Linked DNA regions of Homo sapiens. The protein of the gene in region 1 purifies or fractionates together with the protein of each later gene. This does not show direct contact. Each region holds a gene or a part of one and is shown in the gene's direction. Other genes may lie near its edges. The genes, in order: PSMG4, POMP, MELK and PSMA2.

Region 1 (4,644 bases):
CCTGGGGGACCAGGGGTGATGGGTGGGGCTGTGTGCTCTGTGCCACCTCGCATTCTCTCTTTATCCCAAGGCATAGTGGGCAGGGCTTTGGGCACTGGTCAGATCTGGTGTCGCTGCCTTGTGCCACTTTGTGCAGTGCTGGTTTGGGCTGGTAAGTTTGGAAGAAGTAGGCTCCTCCTGTGGGTGGTTTTGGTCACCCGACCCCATGGTGGTCACAGCTCCCAGTGAGGTATATTTTCTCATCTGGAAAGTGCCCCTCCAGCAAAGCCAGGCAGGAAAAGGAACAGGGGATTGATTGAGTTACCTGACTTGTCAGAAGTCCAGTCCCTCTCACTGGCCGCAGTGTGCCTGGGTGTTCTCTCCAGGGGCAGAGAGCCGAGCCAGCTGGGGAAAAGAGGTGTAGGCATTAGCTTAAGGCAGGAAGCCCAAGGTTCCTGTGACCCGTGGGGCGGCCCTCCATCTACTGTCCACCTGTGACCCGTGGGCCAGCCCTCCATCTACCGTCCATGCAGGTAGACTCTGTGGAGCTCTTGTACCTTGGTGGCAGGGCTGAGCAGTTGTAATAGAGACTTTGTAATCCATAAAGCCTGAACTAGTTACTATCTGGTCCCTCTCAGGAATTTTGCCAGCCCACACGTGGAGAATGGCACCAGACGGTCTGTGAGGTCTCTTCCCTCCAGCTTCCCTAAACTCCCACATGTGAGACTGTAGAGAACAGACACCATGCAACCCGGAGCTGGCTGACCTTGGGTTGAGCAGGGATTTTTGGTGCCCAGAGAGGCTGCAGGACTAGTGACACTGAGTCCTACCAGCTTGAGGGAAGCTGGCCTGGGACCTGGGCCCGTGCCTGCTCAGGGATTCTTGGACCCCCCGCCCGGCCTCTAGGAGTGGAAGGTGGTGCTTCAGCTGCAGCAGAACTCCCTGGGCATCTGCTGGGAGACCACAGTCCTAGTGTGATGTCGGAAGTAATGAACTATTAAGGGTGACACGATGGGGCTTTACATTTAACTTTTGGTAGAAAAAGGCCACCCTGGGTAAGGTAGATTTTCTTTTTTCTAGAAGGTTTAACTGTACATACTATTACCATGCAGCTAAATGTTGAACTTGAGGAATCTGTAAACAGCAGGCTCATTAAGATATTTTTGTATCGTTTTTAGTGAAGAAGCATACAGTAAATGCTTTCATTCTTCTCCTGTGTTTTTTGATCTCCTGCCTTTTATTGTCTTTTGTGGAAGTGGCTTTGAACCTTTAGGAGATGAGCAGCGCCTGTGGTCTCTGCCCTGCCATACTGTCTGGCACACAGTAGCTGTTTGTTCAGTTAACTTGTCCCCACCAGGACAGTTGGGGTGGCAGGGGAACCAAACCCCAAAGTCTCTGTACCTCTAAAAACCTTGCCACTTTCCAAGATTCTCAGACCTCTGTAGCCAGGCTGCTTCTCCTAGAAATCTGCTATTTTGATAAAAGCAATTTTGGCCATATTACCAATAAGTGTTTTTTTTTTCCCCCTTTGGAAGCTAGACCTTCTTACTTTATTTTTTTATTATTATTTTTAATAAAAATGTAGAGACAGATCTTACTTCATTGTCCAGGCTGGTCTCAAACTCCTGGTCTCAAGCAGTCCTCCCTCCACAGGCTCCCAAAGTGCTGGGATTCTGGGACTAGCTAGACATTGTTAATGGTGAGAGATTACTCCCAAAGTAGTTGGGAGCAGTTACTCCCACATCGCCGGAGGGCCCATTTGTTGATCTGAGAATCATTTGTACTGCTTGTTTCACCTTACTGCTTCTTGTCTGAAATGAGGTTGGCCAAGCATGTTCAGAAGTTATTTTCCCTATTTAGATGCTGGTGGCTGGTGCCCTTTGTATCAAAGTCACAAGGCACTCGCTGACCCTGAGGAGCCCACAGGGGCTGGAGCAGCATGCTCCCTCACAGGCTGAGATGAGGAGATTAGGCATCCTGCCTCTGAGCCAGCTGCTGTGGGGCACGAGGCACCAGTGCACAGGTGCCCCGACTGTGAGTCACTTTCTTCTTGCTGTAGCCTTAATGATCTTGTTTGCTTCCCTTTTGGTTGTGGTGTTGCCCTTCAGCATGCTTTGGAGTTTGAGACACTAAAACGAGCCTTTCGTGTGAAACTGGTCCTAGAACTTAGTAGCACTGTGGTTCCAGCTTCATCTTTCCCAACTCCGCTGACCTCATATGCGACATGGGGTCCACCTACTTGGTTGTTGACGGACGCCACCCCTCTTTCCCTCGGCACCTGTGCCTGTCCTCTCTGAACCTGCCACTGCCATCGTCGTGAAGAATCAGAAGCCCGGAAGCCAGAAGTGTGGCTGGCCTGCGGGGGGTGGAGAAGCTGCAGTGTGCCCTTTGCTTTTCTTTTAGGACTCCATCCCCGTGTCTACCTCCCTCCTTGGAGACACTTCCGACACGACCTCTACTGGCCTTGCCCAGCGCCTAGGTATGTACCCACAGCTGGCGCTGCATGGCCAGCCAGGTGGGGCCCACTCTTTAATGGAACCATGAAGCAAGTCCCTTCGGAAGTAAAGCATCTTTATGCTAAGAACCATCACCTCATTGCTGCTGGGAAGCACAGACCTTTGCACGTTGGGTCTTATTTAAGGGGCACATTCCATGCTCGCCTGTCATCACCACCGTCCCAGGGCTGGCCTGTTCCCAAAGGACTCCCACCTCGTCCTTGGGTGTGTCCTTGAGTCCATGAGCTGATTTAGTTGCCTTCCGTAAGTGCATCACCACCTCCTGGGAGGAGAGCATGAGAAGTGCCCACAGCCCCTGTGGGTGGTGGCTCAAGGTAGCCTCCCGGGCCTTAGGAGGAGTCAGTGCAGCTGGTGGAGCAGGTGTCACCTCTGTGCAGGAAGGACTGTCCTCACTCAGTGTGATACCGTTCAGGGCTCGGAGGGAAGACTGGCCTGGCCTGTGAGTGTGGCGTAGAGTGGGGATTAAGCAAAGGTCATGAGGCTGAATGCTCCACTCTTCCCACACCCCAACACACTTCCTGTGGGCCAGGTAAGGCTTCCATGTGCTCTGCGACCCCCAGCCCCAGTGCCTGTGGCCAGTGTGCACAGGATGCCTGTCTCCTGCCCAGGCCTGGCGTTCTCCAGTAGGCCCAGCTGCTTCTGCTCTGGAGTCTTCTCTGTGTCTCAGGCACAGGACCTGGTACCTGACAAGCAGGAACCTCTGTGTCAGTCACACTGAGGCAAATGCACACGAATAGCATGGCACCTGGCCCAGGGGGAAGGCAGGGCAGGGTGGAGTGTCACCAGCAGGCCCATGACAGTATGTGGATAGGACAGAGGTCAGGGAGGGCACAGGTCAGCATTTCAGGAACTCGCAGTATTCTTTTTCCCTCCCTTGGAGGTGGGGACCTGACTTGTAAGTTAATTTGGTAATTTTTAACTAGGAAGTAAATTTAAAATTTACAGAAAAGTTGCAAAGAAGATAGAATTCCTGCTTAGCTTTTGCCCCAATTTCCCACTTGCCACCCTTCCCTCTTTGTGTTTGTATCTTTTTTTTTCTGAGCCACATGAAAGTAAAGCTGCCTTTTGTGTCTGTGTCACTCTGTGTGTGTGACTGTGTAAGGGGTAGCACACTTACATGGAACAGGTTACTGCGTGTGGGAGAAGGCTCAGGAAGGTATTCATATTTATACAGACGGAAAGCTGGGTGGGGTTGCGGACACACTCCCATAGAGAAGGTGGTGTGAGCTTGTCTGGCAGGCCGTGAATAACTTTCATATCAATAAGGTAAATTAGTCTCCAGAATATTTGCGAGATGGAGGCCTAGTATCTATATGCAAAAAAGAGGGGTTCTCAGTATCTCGACTGTCTCAACAAGTCACGGGTGTGCCGTGGCTTCCGGCGTCTCTTAAGGGAATGGTGCTGCAGAGCTCGGACCAAGAAGGTTTTCCAGCAAAGTCCCATGCTTTGCCAGTTGCCTTGAGCCTGGGTCTGGGCCCTCAAGTTGAAAATGCACTATAATGAAAAGGGAGAGGTGTCCTGAATCAGTATCTTATATGAGAGATGAAAGCAGGTAGGGAAAGAGAAGGCCTGGGGGGTTCTCAGTAGCTCTGGAAGCATCGCAGGAGTTGGTGTGGCCAAGGGGACCCAACCTCCTATGGCCCTGGAGGGGCACAGCTTGGGTCTGAGGGGCTCAGTGCCTCCAGACACAGCGTTGTTCCTCAGAAATCCTGTCTCTGCAGTTAGAACAGTTGGAATACCAGGGGGGCCCCCTTAGGGTAAAGGGGGATGTTCCTGCCCCTGGGATATAGGGCAGGGTGTGACTTACAGGCTCCTCCTAGGCAGCCTTGGTGAGCCCCAGCTTCCTACCACACTGCCTGCCTTTAGATCACCCTCTACATGAGTGGTCCCAGCCTGCCTAACACAGCTAGGAAAGGATGAGGTTGGTCCCTAATGGTGGGGGAAGCCTAAGAGGCTTCCTCACTCCCCGCAGGGCTGAGCAGATAACTGGGCACAACTCTCCGCCTCGGGGGCACACTGCACCCAGCACACTGGTGGGAGGCTCTGTGCTAAGTACTGTAAGCTGTTCTTTAAACACCAGCTCTTGGAATAACCGAACAGCTGCCTTTGTCCGGACACATTCCTTTTTTTTTTTTTTTAATAAAAAAAC
Region 2 (4,843 bases), on another chromosome or scaffold:
GTCATTAAATGGAAAACTTCAAATTACAGGCTCAGTGTCTGAAAACTTACCTGCATCTGCTTTCATGTTTTTCTGGGTTTTTTTTTTATGTATTACATTGAATTTGAGATCCCTCTAAGAATATCCAAGTGGAGGTGTCAAGTATACAATTTGTATATAGTTGAATATACCTGTTTCTAAGGAATAAGTACTTGGAAAATGTCCTTCCAATTATGTAAGAACCACCCTCCTACCTGTGCTTTGGATTCTATCCTGTTACATTACTTCAGGAAAATCCCTTTATCAATGATGCCTTCTCAAGCTGATATCTTTAACCCCTCTCTGCTTGCTCTGTCTCAGCAGTAGCATTTGAACCGCTGTTGTCTTTTAAAACAAAAAAAAATTGTATCAATTTCAAATTCCTTTATAGTAACTTGTCTCTCATTGAGTGTGCTTTTGCTTCTTGAAAAGTTGTCTACATTTGCTTTCTATACTCCTTTCCCTGCTATTTATTTAACCCACTGTTTCTGTCTCCCATGACACCAATGAAACTGCTCCTGAACAATGTGGACATTTTTACCTTCACTTTACTTCATCTCCCTGTAGTATTTGACACTAATAATGGCTTCTTCCTTTTTCCCTTGGCTTTTATGTTTTTACTTTGTATTTATTTTTTTGATACAGGATCTCATTCTGTCATCCAGGCTGGAGTGCAGTGGTATGATCATAGCTCACTGCATCCTCAAACTCCTGGGCTCAAGCAATCCTCTTGCCTCACTCTCCTGAGTAGCAGGGACTACAGTCACTTGCTACCTCGCCTGGCTAGTTTTAAAAATTATGATTTGTAGAAACGGGCTCTTGCTATGTTGCCTAGGCTGGTCCTAAACTCCTGGCCTCAAGCTATCATCCCACCTCCTTGGCTTTTAGAACACCACACTTTCCTGATGTCCTCCTTTCTGAATCCTTGTTCTCAGGTGTCTCTGTGTAGGTTCCATTTGTTTTGCCTGTTTCCTAAAATGCCAGTTTTGTTAGTGCCCCATCTCTAGTCCTTTCCTGACCCTATTTCCTACTTGTTGCTTTAGTTATCAATTATATGTTGATGATTCCAACTGGGCGTGGTGCCTCACACCTGTAATCCCAGCACTTTGGGAGGCCAAGGTGGGTGGATCACTCAAGCTCAGGTGTTCAAGACCAGCCTGGGCAACATGGCAAAACCCCATCTCTACAAAAAAAAATACAACAAATGTGCCAGCCGTGGTGGTGCACACCTATAGTCCCAGCTACTCAGGAGGCTGAGGTGGGAGGATCATTTGAGCCTGGGAGTCGGAGGTTGCAGTGAGCCGAGATCGTGCCACTACACTCCAGCCTAGGTGACAGAATGAGACTCCGTCTCAAAAAATAAAATATGTTGATGACCCCCAAGTTACAATTCTCATGAGCTATAAACCTATAGGCTTTTCCAATTGGAAAGCCCAATTGGAAGTCCCACAGGCACCTCCAGTTTTACATGGACAAGTACAGAATAACTCATAATCCCATAATCCCCCACATACTCCTTATCCCATATGAATAGGTTTCTGCCTAAGGCAGAAATTGGATAATTAGCCTTGGTTATGTCACCTAGCACCCATCCTAACCTCTTCCCCTGCTCCCCCAAATCATTCAGTTTATTACTTGCTCTCCCCACCATTGCTACTATGCTGGTCCTTGCCCCTGTCAGACTTCATCTGGATTACTGCAACACTCATCCCTGCTGCCCCTCCAATCCTTGTTAAGACTCTAATCAGAATAATCTTTGTAAAACACAGATTTGATTATGTCATTCCCCTCACTTTACCCTCTAAATAAAAATAAAACCCAACACTTAGTGTGGCTCTGTCCATGAATTGGCTCCTTGCTTCCCACCACACTTCTTATCCTCTTAAACTACTTGCAGTTTCCTAATTCATTAAGTTCTTTCACTGTTAGGCGTTTGCACACATTTCTCCTACTGGTGCAGATTCCTTTCTCTGACCTAGCTAAATTGTCTTTTTCAATAAATTTCTATTGGCCGAGCTGGGTGGCTCATGCCTGTAATCCCAGCACTTTGGGAGGCCGAGGCAGATGGATCACCTGAGGTCAGGAGTTCGAGACTAGCCTGGCCAACATGGTGAAACCCCGTCTCTACTAAAAATACAAAAATTAGCCAGGCCTGGTGGCATGTGCCTGTAATCCCAGCTACTCGGGAGGCTGAGGCAGGAGAATTGCCTGAACCCAGGAGACAGAGGTTGCAGTGAGCCAAAATCACACCATTGCACTCCAGCCTGGGCGACAAGAGCAAAACTCCATCTCCAAAAAAAATAATAATAAGATAAATTCTACTAATACTATCAATTGTATTTGGCTAAGTCATTCTGGAAGCTACTCGTTTTCCAAAGATAAAGCTCTTAAAAAACATGGTTTTGAGTAACCTAGGGTTGAATCTTGGCTTAGCCATCTACTAGTCTTAAGAACTTGAGTAAGCTGGAGAGCTTTCTGAACCTTAGATTTTTTAATTTAATGTGAAATAAGGAGAACAGTAAGAGTAGCATAGGATTATTCTGAAGATTAAATGAAATCACATGTTTGGCACAAAATTGTTAGCTTCCCTTTTTATTTTCCTCTTACTCAGATTTCAACTACAGATTGCTCAAATTCTGGATTTAAGTTTTTAATACTATTTGATCCAAATATCTTTGCCCAGAATTCTCTGTCTTTTTTTTTTTTTTCTTATCTCTATACTTTTGCAGTTTTGGGTTGTCAAGATGTATAACAGCTGCCTGCTCCTCCCTGCTTTTGATGCATTCTTAGGACTGTACTCTGATCTAACTACCAGACCCCTTGCTGTCTGGTTTAATTTACAGGTTCCTATTTTTGTTTCTTCCTCTTCCTCCCACTTCCTTTTTTTTTTTAGGTTTGACAATCTAGAGAAATTTTTCCACACTATAAAGATTTTAAATATCTCTATGGAACATTAGTAATTGAAAATAATATATTTAGTCTGGATACATTTTGTTGGGGGTGGGGGGAATGTGAGAAACTGCCCTCTTAGATTCTAACGGTGTGATTATCTTTAAAATACTACTATCATTTAGTCAAAGACCACCTATTTTGGTAGTCTGTGGGAATATCAAAAATTATCTGCATTAGCTGGGCTTGGTGACATGGACCTGTAATCCCAGTTTTAGTGGGAGGATCACTAGAGCCCAGGAGTTTGAGACCAGCCTAAGCAACCTATTGAGTTGGACTTTCTTCAGGAATTTGATCATCCTACATGTATCAGGAATGAGGCGTGATGTTAAGCTCTGGGATTTTGCATTTCATTACATGGTATATGCCGTAGTTTTCCTGAGCAGAAGCAAAGCCTCAAAATACATGCACACCAGGTAGGATTATTGTTAATGAAAAGTATAATTTCAGTGTCTTTACAACTTAGTTTGTGTCTAAAATATGAACTAGTGTTTTTTTCCACTTGTTAAATTGATCTTGTATTTGGTTTTGCGAATTTTCAAACAAAGAATAAAGAACATGAAATTAGACTATATATTCTGTCATTTTCCCCTGAGTTTTTTCTAATCTTGTCCCTTCATACTTTTCCCCAAAGGTTCAGCGTCTTCCATTTCTTTCAAGCTCAAATCTTTCACTGGATGTTTTGAGGGGTAATGATGAGACTATTGGATTTGAGGATATTCTTAATGGTAAGTGTCATTCAGCACCTTTTTATGGAGCCCTTGTAATTTAAAAGGCAAACAGCTGCAAAAAGAATAGGCAAAATTCTTGTCCTCATGGAACTTACAGCTGATTGGGTTCACTTTATTCATTGCATTAAGATAAAGTTTAATGGTAGTAACTGTTCTTTAACTGTTTTTAAAAGTGAAGATTGGCTGGGTGCGGTGGCTCACGTGTAATCCCAGCACTTTGGGAGGCCGGGGTGGGCAGATCACCTCAGGTCAGGTGTTTGAGACAAGCCTGGCCAACATGGTGAAACCCTGTCTCTACTAAAAATATAAAAAGAAAAAAAGTGAAAATTATTTATGAAATTCTAAGAGTACATAGTCATTTCAGTCTAGTAATGGTGGTTATTCACTTCATGTCCTGAGCTTCAAGTGTAATATGTCAGTCTGATATTCCTAGGGTGACTTAAACAATGATAATTATTTCAGAATTCACATTGTTGGGATGTGACTGGTGTTGTTTTTGTGTGTTTAGTTTGATTTTGGGGTTTTTTGACTAGCATTTTAAACAACTGGAAAATAAATCTTTCTTTAAAAAGTAGCTCCCCAAAAAAGTAATTTTTGTACTTCTACAGGTGATAAATAGGAAAGAGGAATCTGTCTTTTTTTTTTTTTTTTTCAAGATGGAGTCTTGTGCTGTTACCCGGGCTGGAGTGCAGTGGCGCAATCTCAGCTCACTGCAACTTCCGCCTCCTGAGTTCAAGCAATTCTCCTGCCTCAGCCTCCCAAGTAGCTGGGATTACAGGCACCCATCACCACACCCGGCTAATTTTTGTATTTTTAGTAGAGACGGGGTTTTACCATGTTGGCCAGGCTGGTCTCGAACTCCTGACCTTGTGATCTGCCCGCCTCGGCCTCCCAAAGTGCTGGGATTAGAGGCGTGAGCCACTGCACCCGGCCGAATCTGTTATTTTTAATAAAATTCCCTGAATAATTGTAAATGAATTTAAGTAAGAACAATATATGCAGCATCCTCTATTTTTTCTGGTCCTGAGGAAGATAAACAAATACAATCCTGTCCAATGCTGCCTCTGCTCGTTATGCCCCAGCAGTGCAGGAGAAACAAAAATATCCAACAGGATTAAGTTTTATTAGTTTTGCTTGGCTGCTGA
Region 3 (4,843 bases), on another chromosome or scaffold:
TCCTAATCTTATGGTTTTTCTCCCACAGTCTGGAAGTGCTGGAGAACTACCTAGAAAGCCAACTAACACCACAGTAGTTTCTATTGAAAAATGCATTCAGGTTCCAAAATATTTACATAACTGACCATTTTTAGAACATTATCCGTTAGTATTTGGTAACTGCTTAGCTTCTCAATAATGTGTATATATGTGGTTGAACTAGTTTCCTTAATTTTATTTAACATTTTTCAGTGCAATGGTACTATGGTTTTTTTAAATCTCAGTGTCAGTGCTTGAAATACTTAACTATCTCCAACCAGAAAAATTTCAGAACAAAAGGATAAAATATGCCTAATAAACAGCCATATGTAACGTAAACTTCTCAGCACACTTTATGGTGTTGTCTTTATGGAAGACAACATCCTTATTCATTGGAGATGTATACTGAAGTGTTTCAGAGTAAAGTGTCATGATATGTTCAGATGAGTTACTTTCAGATGGCTTAGCAAATAAGTAAATTTAATGTATTATCTACATACATTAAATTTATGTGTATATATAGATATATACATTGATGTATATATATCAGTGTATATCTATATACATATGTACATTAATATATTATCTATATCCAAATAGAAAGCAAATGTGGCAAAATATGAACAATTGTTGAATCTAGGAGGATATACCGGTGTTCATTGTACTCTTCTTTGAACTTTTCTATATATATGAAAAAAGGATATATATATCCTTTTTTAAAAAGGAAGGGGATAAATAGTTTTGCTGAGTGGCAGTTGCCTGGTAGAAGTGTGACAGCTCCTGTCCAGGGGGAGATGGCTTTGGTGCTTCCTGAGGAAGAGAGAGGTGATCTGGCCCTGGCATACCTGAGTGAGGCATCCTAATGTGTATGAAGGGACAAAAGTTCACCCTTGTGGACCCCACAGGCCGGAGGCCCAGCTCTACTTGTGCCTTGTTTTATGTTTTGTTTCAGGTGCCGCTCAGTGGAATTGGATCTCAACCAAGCACATATGGAGGAGACTCCAAAAAGAAAGGGAGCCAAAGTGTTTGGGAGCCTTGAAAGGGGGTTGGATAAGGTTATCACTGTGCTCACCAGGAGCAAAAGGAAGGGTTCTGCCAGAGACGGGCCCAGAAGACTAAAGGTAAGCAGGCTGGAATTCTTTCATATGGAGCAGAAGCTGACTGCTAATGGACTGCCTTTTTTTTTTAAGGTGCTGAATGAATTGATTAGTGTTTTTTATTTGAGTATTTATTCACTTAGTTAATATATGTTTTTTGAGCAACTAAAATCTGCATGTTACTGTGCAGTCAGTAAATAGATACAGTCACTCCCTTCAAGGAGCAAACAGCTATCATTCAAATATTCAAGAACAGGTGGAGGGATTAGTCACAGGGGCAACATGGAGGTGAGGAAGCAGGGGGCACAGATGGAGAGCTGAGAGCTGCCTTAAGGAGGGGGACTTGAGCTCAGTTGTGTCCCTGATTCATGGATACTTTGTAGGCCCTCATGAAATATTTGAATGCATGGGAAGATAATTGGAACTTTGAGTGTGGTGTGTGTCAGGAAAATAGTGAGTGACAAGCGGGGAAGGTAGGCCGGAAGGGCCTCAAGGCCTGGCTAAGAAGGTGTGGATCTTATTTAATAGACCCAGTATGCTTTAAAAGGGTTAATGTGTCACTGGTGTGGACAATATATTTAGTCAAGGAAGGAAAGGAAAAATAAGCTGTTAGTTGATATAAAGTACTTTTTATTCTCTTGGATTCTCTCTGAGCATTCATTCAAACATCTGATGAATACATGTTTGTTTGGTGGAAGGGGAGTAATTAAGAGGTAAAGGGACGAATGAGACAGCCCATTCCTTGAGGAACTCTTAGGCTGGCTGTGAAAACAGGCTGGGATGTTGTTCTGAAACACTGGGCTCAGTGCTATAGTAAAAACACATTCCAAGAGGTGTGGGCCCAAGCAGGGGAGAAGATGGTAGTGTGCCCATCATTTGGGGACTGGGTCTATGTTTAGTTTTTGCACTGAGACTCTCGTAATGAGCAAATCTGGGCGGTTTGAGGGAAGGAAAATGCTGAGCTTTTGGGCAGAAGGGTGTTTTAGAGGAGAATGTTCTGTGATCTCATTTCTGTTCTGTCTTAAAGTGGAAGAAGATAGGAGTTATCCACTAGCAGTCATTACCTTGAACTTTTGTAGTGTGCTGAGACGTTACATATGGCTGTGTATTAGGCATATTTTATCCTTTTGTTCTGAAATTTCTCTGGTTGGAGATAGTTAAGTATTTCAAGCACCGACACTGAGATTTAAAAAAACCATAGTACCATTGCACTGAAAAATGTTAAATAAAATTAAGGAAACTAGTTCAACCACATATATACACATTATTGAGAAGCTAAGCAGTTACCAAATACTAACGGATAATGTTCTAAAAATGGTCAGTTATGTAAATATTTTGGAACCTGAATGCATTTTTCAATAGAAACTACTGTGGTGTTAGTTGGCTTTCTAGGTAGTTCTCCAGTACTTCCAGAATGTAGGAGAAAAACCACAGGATTGGGAATGAGAAGACCTGGGTTCTGGCTCCAGCTTTGTGCTGTATAGCTTTGATAAATCATTTTATTCCTGATCTCCTCAGTGTCTTCATTTGTAAAATCTGGAAATAATGCCTACCCTGGCAACCTCACACGGCTGAGATGTAGAAACAAGACTCTACATATGGGATGCTACATGGCATATTAAATGCTTTATGAGTATAAGGTGACATGTTTCCAATGTCAAGGATTACTATCAGTGTTGAGCATTTTACCACCCATGTATAGACCCATGGTCCTAATTAGCACAGTCCTAAGATTGAAAACTTTAACTTTAGATCATTAACACTTTTTAATGCTTTTAAGTTTTTGCAAAACTGAAGGACTTTCTTTGGGAAATTAACCTTATTTTTTTTCACCTACTTCAAATACTGTACTAAAAACTATACACTTACCGGAAGAGTTGCAAGGATAGTAGAAATAATACCTTAGTTTTTTAAGATAGCAAATCATATGTAGTTATGTCCTCTTTTAGGAAGCAGTCTATAAAAAATCCAAAATTTAAGTAGATAAATTAGGATTCATTCTTTATTTTACCAAAGCAGTAATATATTGTGATTTGAAGGTGTTCAGTTTATTATTAATATCATCTTAACAGAGCCAATTTAGTTTGGTGAAAAGAGTGCTGGATCAGGAACCAAGAAAGAGAGGGTCCCTTCGTTAACACTCAGTTTCACGACATTTGCTCTATGGGTGTATTGGGTGCACTATTATTTATCTGGTATTTTCATTATGTTGACTCTCCTTTAACAAATGGATTTATAGAGATATAACTGACATATAATAAACTTGCACATATTTTATTTTATTTTATTTGTTGTTAATTTTTTGAGGCAGAGTCTTGCTCTGCTGCCCAGGCTGTGGTGCAATGGCATGATCATAGCTCACTGCAGCCTCAACCTTCTGGGCTCAAGTCATCCTCCTGCCTCAGCTTCCTGAGTAGCTGGGATGCGTGCTACCACACTTGGCTAATTCTTAATTTTTTTTGCAGAGACAGGGTCTCACTATGTTACCCAGGCTGGTCTTGAACTCCTGAGCCCAAGTAATCCTCCTGCCTTGGCTTCCCAAAGTGCTGGGATTACAGTCATGAGCCACTACACCCGGCCAACTGTGCATATTTTAAAGTACAATTAATATGCTTTGGCATTATATATAACATCTGTGAAACCATTGCCACAATCAAGATAATTTTTTAAAACTCAAATTTATTTAAAAGGAAACCTTTATATCATTAGGGTTTTTTTGTTGTTGTTGTTAATTATGTTTTCGAAATCAGTTGGGAACAAATACATATTTAAAAATATTTATCCATGTGCCACCCAGAATTACCTTGTCTATCTTGTATCACACTATGAGAAGCACTACCTTAAGAAATTTGTATCTCTTCTTTGGGCCATAGGTTCTTATTTTGAAAAGTAAGATAGTTGGATACTTTTCTTCCTAGGCATTTTGTTATTTATACAATGAACTCAAACCTGAAAGATATAGAAACTATGGTTTTGTTTGACAGTGAAGGTACTTACCAGGAAGGGAGGGATTTTTGTGTGTCCAGGACCCACTAAAACAGTGCCTACCACATAGTAAACATTCAAAAGTAGTTGTTGAATGAATGAAGGATAAATATCAATTAGGAATGAAATTATCTCTGAGAATTAGGCTCTCAGTCAATGAGAAAAAATAATATGACATCACTTTTTTAAAGGAATACCTGTTACATTTATTTCCTCATAGAACTGTCATAAAATCAGCTCCTGGAACTCTATAATATTCTTTAAATAATCCAGAAAGAGTTAAGGAAACATATCCAACTAGGTACAAAGCAAACTTTGTATGGTGTTTGTTTATCTTTCCGTGGTATACATTTCAGGACTGTTAATGTCTCTTAAAATAGTGTGGGAAGGGGAAAATAGGCAAAGCTCAAACAGTTAGATGGGTGCTCTTTAATATTTATTTCTTTAAAAGGATTGGTAGGAGAGGAAGATGAAAGTATGAAAAGGAAGCTATGGGTGTGTTTACTAATAACCATAACTTCTCCAAGCTCTCCCAGTGGGCCATTAACTCACTAAGAGTTGACTGTAAATTCCTTTGATATTTTTTAGGAAATAGTTCCATTTGAAACAGTACTATATTGAGGAGTTTTGGAACTCTTGATCTGGTGTGATGGTCTTTGTGTTGATGTAAAAATTTACTTCTCATCTCTTCTTTTTCTTTTCTTAGCTTCACTATAACGTGACTACAACTAGATTAGTGAATC
Region 4 (4,843 bases), on another chromosome or scaffold:
CTGTCAGCCAAATGATTGTGGATTCCTGGTATTAGGTTATGTGCTGGAATCCTGACTGAACATAGCTACTTTATTGAGGAAGACAAATATTGTAAAAATAATAAAGAGACCGAGGCAGGAGGATTGCTTGAGACGAGGTGTTTGAGACCAGCCTGGGCAGCATAGCAAGACCCTGTTACTAAAAAAAAAAAATAACAATTCAGATATGATGAATCTTAGACAAAGAGGAAGTGCAGGACATCACAGGCATCAGTGAATAGGTATTCAACTTAATCTTGAGGGTTCAGGGCAACTTCCCTTAGGACATGATTGAATGAAAGGAGTTCACAGGGCAATAGAGAAATGCATTTCAGATGGAGGGATTAGCTTGTCAATGAGGCGTTTGAAGTCTGAGAGTAGTCTATGTGTTTGGAGCAAGGAGGGATGGAGTTGAGATTTGAGTGACCAAGGGAATATTCGTAATTATATGAAGAGAAAATACGGCCTTCTGAAATTTATATTTTCATTAGTAGACGGGAGATAAGGACCTAGCTGTGTCACTTTGGACAAATTACTTTCACTCAGACTTTATCTATGAAATTAGGTTGGTTTATGATGATTCCATTTAAACAACTAGGTTGAAATAAAGGATAACTTTAAAAGGCCAGTTTGAGACTTGCGTTTAGCTACCAAATCCATGGAACCAGATCTGTTAAGTGTGACCATCTCATGACTTCTAGAAATAGTTGTATATTATATAGAGAATACTTAATTGTGAGTGATATCTAGGTCTTATTGTCTTAGGCCATGTCTGTTTTCTAAAACCACCCTCCGACCTGAAATATGTGCTGCTGTTTGGTTTTTAACAGACACATACATGTTCTTAATAACATTACTATTCAGTATGTGCTTGTTACTGATTTTATGCCAGACAGTTTTATAGGAATTACTTCACTTAATCACAACAATGCTTTGAAATAGGTACAGGACACTTGTAGGGGACGGTGATTTCAGTACCCCCACAAATACCAAGTGAGGGCGTATTCAAGTCCTGTAGTCAGCCCTGTGGAATCCACTGATACGGAAAACCAGTTGTGGTTACTGTGTCCTCATTTTACAGGTGAGAAAACAGGCATAGAAAACTTAGGGTGAAAAGAAGCAACAGTAATACCACTGCTCCATGTGGCAGACAAAAAACAACCAAAGAGAAAGTAGTGCTTCAGTAGGAGTATGTTCCAATTGCCTTGTAAACTTGGTTTCTTTCTTTCTGTCTTTCTCTTTTTTTTTTTGAGACGAGGTTTCGGCCTTGTTGCCCAGGCTAGAGTGCAATGGTGCAATCTTGGCTTACTGCAACCTCCACCTCCCGGATTCAAGCAATTCTCCTGCCTCAGCCTCCCAAGTAGCTGGGATTACAGGCATGCACCACCATACCCGGCTAATTTTTGTATATTTAGTAGAGACAGGGTTTCACCATGTTAGTCAGGCTGGTCTCGAACTCCTGACCTCAGGTGATCCACCCGTCTTGGCCTTCCAAAGTGCTGGGATTACAAACTTGAGTCATTGCGCCCAGCTGTAAACTTGGTTTCTGTGCCACTTCATGATAGAGGTCAAAGGCCAGTTACTCCCTGGAGTTGGATAAATTGGATTTGACCTGTATGTCTGTACTATCTCAGAGATGTTCTTACAATAAATATTTGATGATATGTGAACTTACAAATACCTGTGTTTCTTTTAAGCCCGTCTGGTAAACTTGTCCAGATTGAATATGCTTTGGCTGCTGTAGCTGGAGGAGCCCCGTCCGTGGGAATTAAAGGTAATGAAATGCTTCATTCATTTCAGATGCCTGTTAGTAGTTATCCTAATTATTTTGGAATTCATTAGTAATTAATTTATACAGAGCTGCAGCAGTATAATTTTTAACAATTTTTTGTTAATTTACAGTGTTTTGGAGTTTAAATAGTAATAAGTCTAAGGTCATTCAAATTTCTTTTCAAAGTAAATAGTAACACCTTTATCTGTTAGTTGTGATATTCACAATAGTCTTTCTCATTCAGAAAACTGAGTTCTTTTTTTGTTTTTCCACTGATTATATCACTACTTCCTGGCAGTTTTTATCCTTATAATTTAGGAAAGCTTAATTATAAAACATAAGCTAAATGTGTTGTGTTTCACTTTAAAAGCCTGTATCATTTATTGTAAATTTCATGTTATAAGAATATTGGGACAAGTAGACAGAAATCCCTTATTTTAAAACATGTGAACTCTCAGGTATCCTTAGAGTGCTTTACAAAAGTTTATGTAATACCTTTAGCTGTAGGGAGGATTTTTTTGTGTAGTACTAAATGACCAGTGAGGGAAAAACTGACTTACCATTTCTTAGGTAATTTTGGTAATAGGACTCCGGAAGAAAAGGTTTTATAAATTAAAGGAAATAAAGGAGTTTGCGTTTAGCGCATCCATAATTAGAAAGCTGTTAAAACAGTCTTAAAAATGATTAAACATTTATGTCTCTCTCTTTTTTTTTAAGCTGCAAATGGTGTGGTATTAGCAACTGAGAAAAAACAGAAATCCATTCTGTATGATGAGCGAAGTGTACACAAAGTAGAACCAATTACCAAGCATATAGGTTTGGTGTACAGTGGCATGGGCCCCGATTACAGGTACTTTATACTTTTTATAGTGTTTCTCACCATCTCATGAATTGATTGTAATCTGTATTTTCAGGAGAAAAACCAAGGTTGTTTTCCTTTAATCTTCCAGTTCCTCTTTTTTTGTGTGCTTTGTTTAGCAATAGCAGCCTCGTTGAGAGCTGAATTTAGTTTGCCTGTATAGGTTACTTTAAAGAGAATAACTCAGATGTGAAAGAGGAGGTAGATAGATTACATAACTCCTCTTTTCTCTGTTCAGCGGACTTTCTCTTCTGACATATTCCTCTTCTACTATCCAGGAACTGGGCGTAAGGGCTTTAGTTTTCGCCAGTGCAGTTTAAAAATGATAAAAGCAATTTAAGTTATAATAAACTATATTTTAAAAAGTATGAGGCAACAAAAGAAAGTATCACTATCCAGAGTTATCTTTTTTCCTGTTCTTCACAAAGGAACAAAATTCTCAAACACCACTGCAAGTTGTTGAGTGTGGCAGCCAACCAGGATCCCAATGCTTGTGTAATCACCCCCTTTATATTTCACAGGAAGAGAGAATAATCTTGTTACTCAGGGTACCAGCAAGTTGAAAGAGATTGACAGCTTTCTGTGTCTGTCATTTAAACAAGTAAAAGGAGTATTACTTTATTGCTCATGATTTTGTGGAGCAAGATAGGTAGAGGCAAAGTTTCACTTCAGTGAATCAACGCAACAAGGTCAGTGGAATGTGATCAGGCAGTGAATCTTGTCACCACTATATAGGCTGGATACTGCATTGTGCTGCCACTGATAGGATAAACTGAGGGATGGGACATGACTGTCACACAGAGGGAAAATGTGCATATTTCAGATCAGTAGTATATGAGCTGGCAAAGATAAATCCTATTTGTCTTGCTAATATATTTGATTGTTATATAATATCTTCTTAATCTCTTTTGACAAATTTTACTTCTGAAAAAAAATTTTAAGAGACAGGGTCATGCTGGGTATTGCTTTTATCATTTTAAACTGCACTGGAGAAAACTAAAGCCTTATGCCCAGTTCCTGTATAGTAGAAGAGGAATATGTCAGAAAGGAAAGTCCATTAAACAGAGAAAAGAGGAGTTATGTACTCTATCTCCCTCCTCTTTCACATCTGAGTTATTCTCTTTAAAGTAACCCAGGGTCTTGCCCAGGCAGGTCTGAAACTCCTGGCCTCAAGTGATCTTCCTGCCTCAGCCTTTTAAAGTGTTGGGATTACAGGCGTGAAACACTGCACCTAGCCGAATTTTACATTTTTAGTTACAAGTAGTTTCTTACTGTTTCTTAATCTCTGAAGGGTACTCCGTGAAGCACAGGCAGAGAGATTGAAACAGTCTGCAGAAAGTAGTGACCTGAAGTGAGAAAAATATGCCCAGAATTGTGTGCCTGTGTGTTTATGTGTGCTTGTGTGTGTGGGCTGGGGTGAGCTGTAAAAAGACAAGCGGCTGCCCTTGGATGGGGGTACAGTCTTGAAGAAGCCGTGGAGCAAGATAAAGTTCTCATTTTTGTACATTAAATCTGTTACTTTTAAGCTAACTGGTACTCTGATGCTCTGATATTTTCTTCTATATCAACTGGAATCCAGTGTTAGAGTAAGACTAGCTTTGATCCAATAGCCACCATTAAAGAGATACATGTTAAACTTGTGCTGCAGGTACATGCCTGTAAAAGGAGAATGAGTCTTCAGGTAGTAGAGCATGTTCTGTGTAATTAAATCTTATTTTTTCCTTGTTAGAGTGCTTGTGCACAGAGCTCGAAAACTAGCTCAACAATACTATCTTGTGTACCAAGAACCCATTCCTACAGCTCAGCTGGTACAGAGAGTAGCTTCTGTGATGCAAGAATATACTCAGTCAGGGTAAGTTGCTTTTTTTACTTGAAATGTGCCATGAATTGTAGGGGGAAGTTATTTTAAAGAGTAGGTATATAAATAGAGTGGGACTTACCATTTCTGTATTTGCTTAACAAGTGGACAGAATCACTATGATGAATATTTCTGATCTTATCTGGCTCTGGAGTATTTATTTAAGGAAAAAAATGTGTTTTCTTGTTGCTTATGTAACAGCAGAAAGCAGCTTCTAGATATACAAAGTTCTTTTGCCAGTGATTAAAACACTTTATGGACAGACAATCATTGCAACTTTAAATTTTTCTTTTTTTTTTTTTTTTTTTTTTTTTTGAGTCAGAGTCTCACTCTGTCG

Evidence for each region.
Region 2: the proteins of PSMG4 (region 1) and POMP purify together in Homo sapiens (affinity purification with mass spectrometry; 2 studies listed by BioGRID and IntAct, with this or other methods). This does not show direct contact.
Region 3: the proteins of PSMG4 (region 1) and MELK purify together in Homo sapiens (affinity purification with mass spectrometry; one large-scale study listed by BioGRID and IntAct). This does not show direct contact.
Region 4: the proteins of PSMG4 (region 1) and PSMA2 purify together in Homo sapiens (affinity purification with mass spectrometry; 2 studies listed by BioGRID and IntAct, with this or other methods). This does not show direct contact.

Annotation. Positions count from the first base shown.
Region 1 is NC_000006.12:3,261,302-3,265,945, forward strand, and holds part of PSMG4 (proteasome assembly chaperone 4), read left to right. Parts: intron 1-2,382; coding exon 2,383-2,458; coding exon of another isoform or gene 2,459-2,523; exon of another isoform or gene 2,524-2,872; coding exon of another isoform or gene 2,873-3,024; exon of another isoform or gene 3,025-4,644. UniProt on the Homo sapiens protein: Chaperone protein which promotes assembly of the 20S proteasome.
Region 2 is NC_000013.11:28,668,738-28,673,580, forward strand, and holds part of POMP (proteasome maturation protein), read left to right. Parts: intron 1-3,601; coding exon 3,602-3,695; intron 3,696-4,843. UniProt on the Homo sapiens protein: Molecular chaperone essential for the assembly of standard proteasomes and immunoproteasomes. Degraded after completion of proteasome maturation. Mediates the association of 20S preproteasome with the endoplasmic reticulum.
Region 3 is NC_000009.12:36,670,028-36,674,870, forward strand, and holds part of MELK (maternal embryonic leucine zipper kinase), read left to right. Parts: intron 1-970; coding exon 971-1,139; intron 1,140-4,806; coding exon 4,807-4,843. UniProt on the Homo sapiens protein: Serine/threonine-protein kinase involved in various processes such as cell cycle regulation, self-renewal of stem cells, apoptosis and splicing regulation. Has a broad substrate specificity; phosphorylates BCL2L14, CDC25B, MAP3K5/ASK1 and ZNF622.
Region 4 is NC_000007.14:42,924,332-42,929,174, reverse strand, and holds part of PSMA2 (proteasome subunit alpha type-2), read left to right. Parts: intron 1-1,715; coding exon 1,716-1,792; intron 1,793-2,506; coding exon 2,507-2,639; intron 2,640-4,377; coding exon 4,378-4,500; intron 4,501-4,843. UniProt on the Homo sapiens protein: Component of the 20S core proteasome complex involved in the proteolytic degradation of most intracellular proteins. This complex plays numerous essential roles within the cell by associating with different regulatory particles.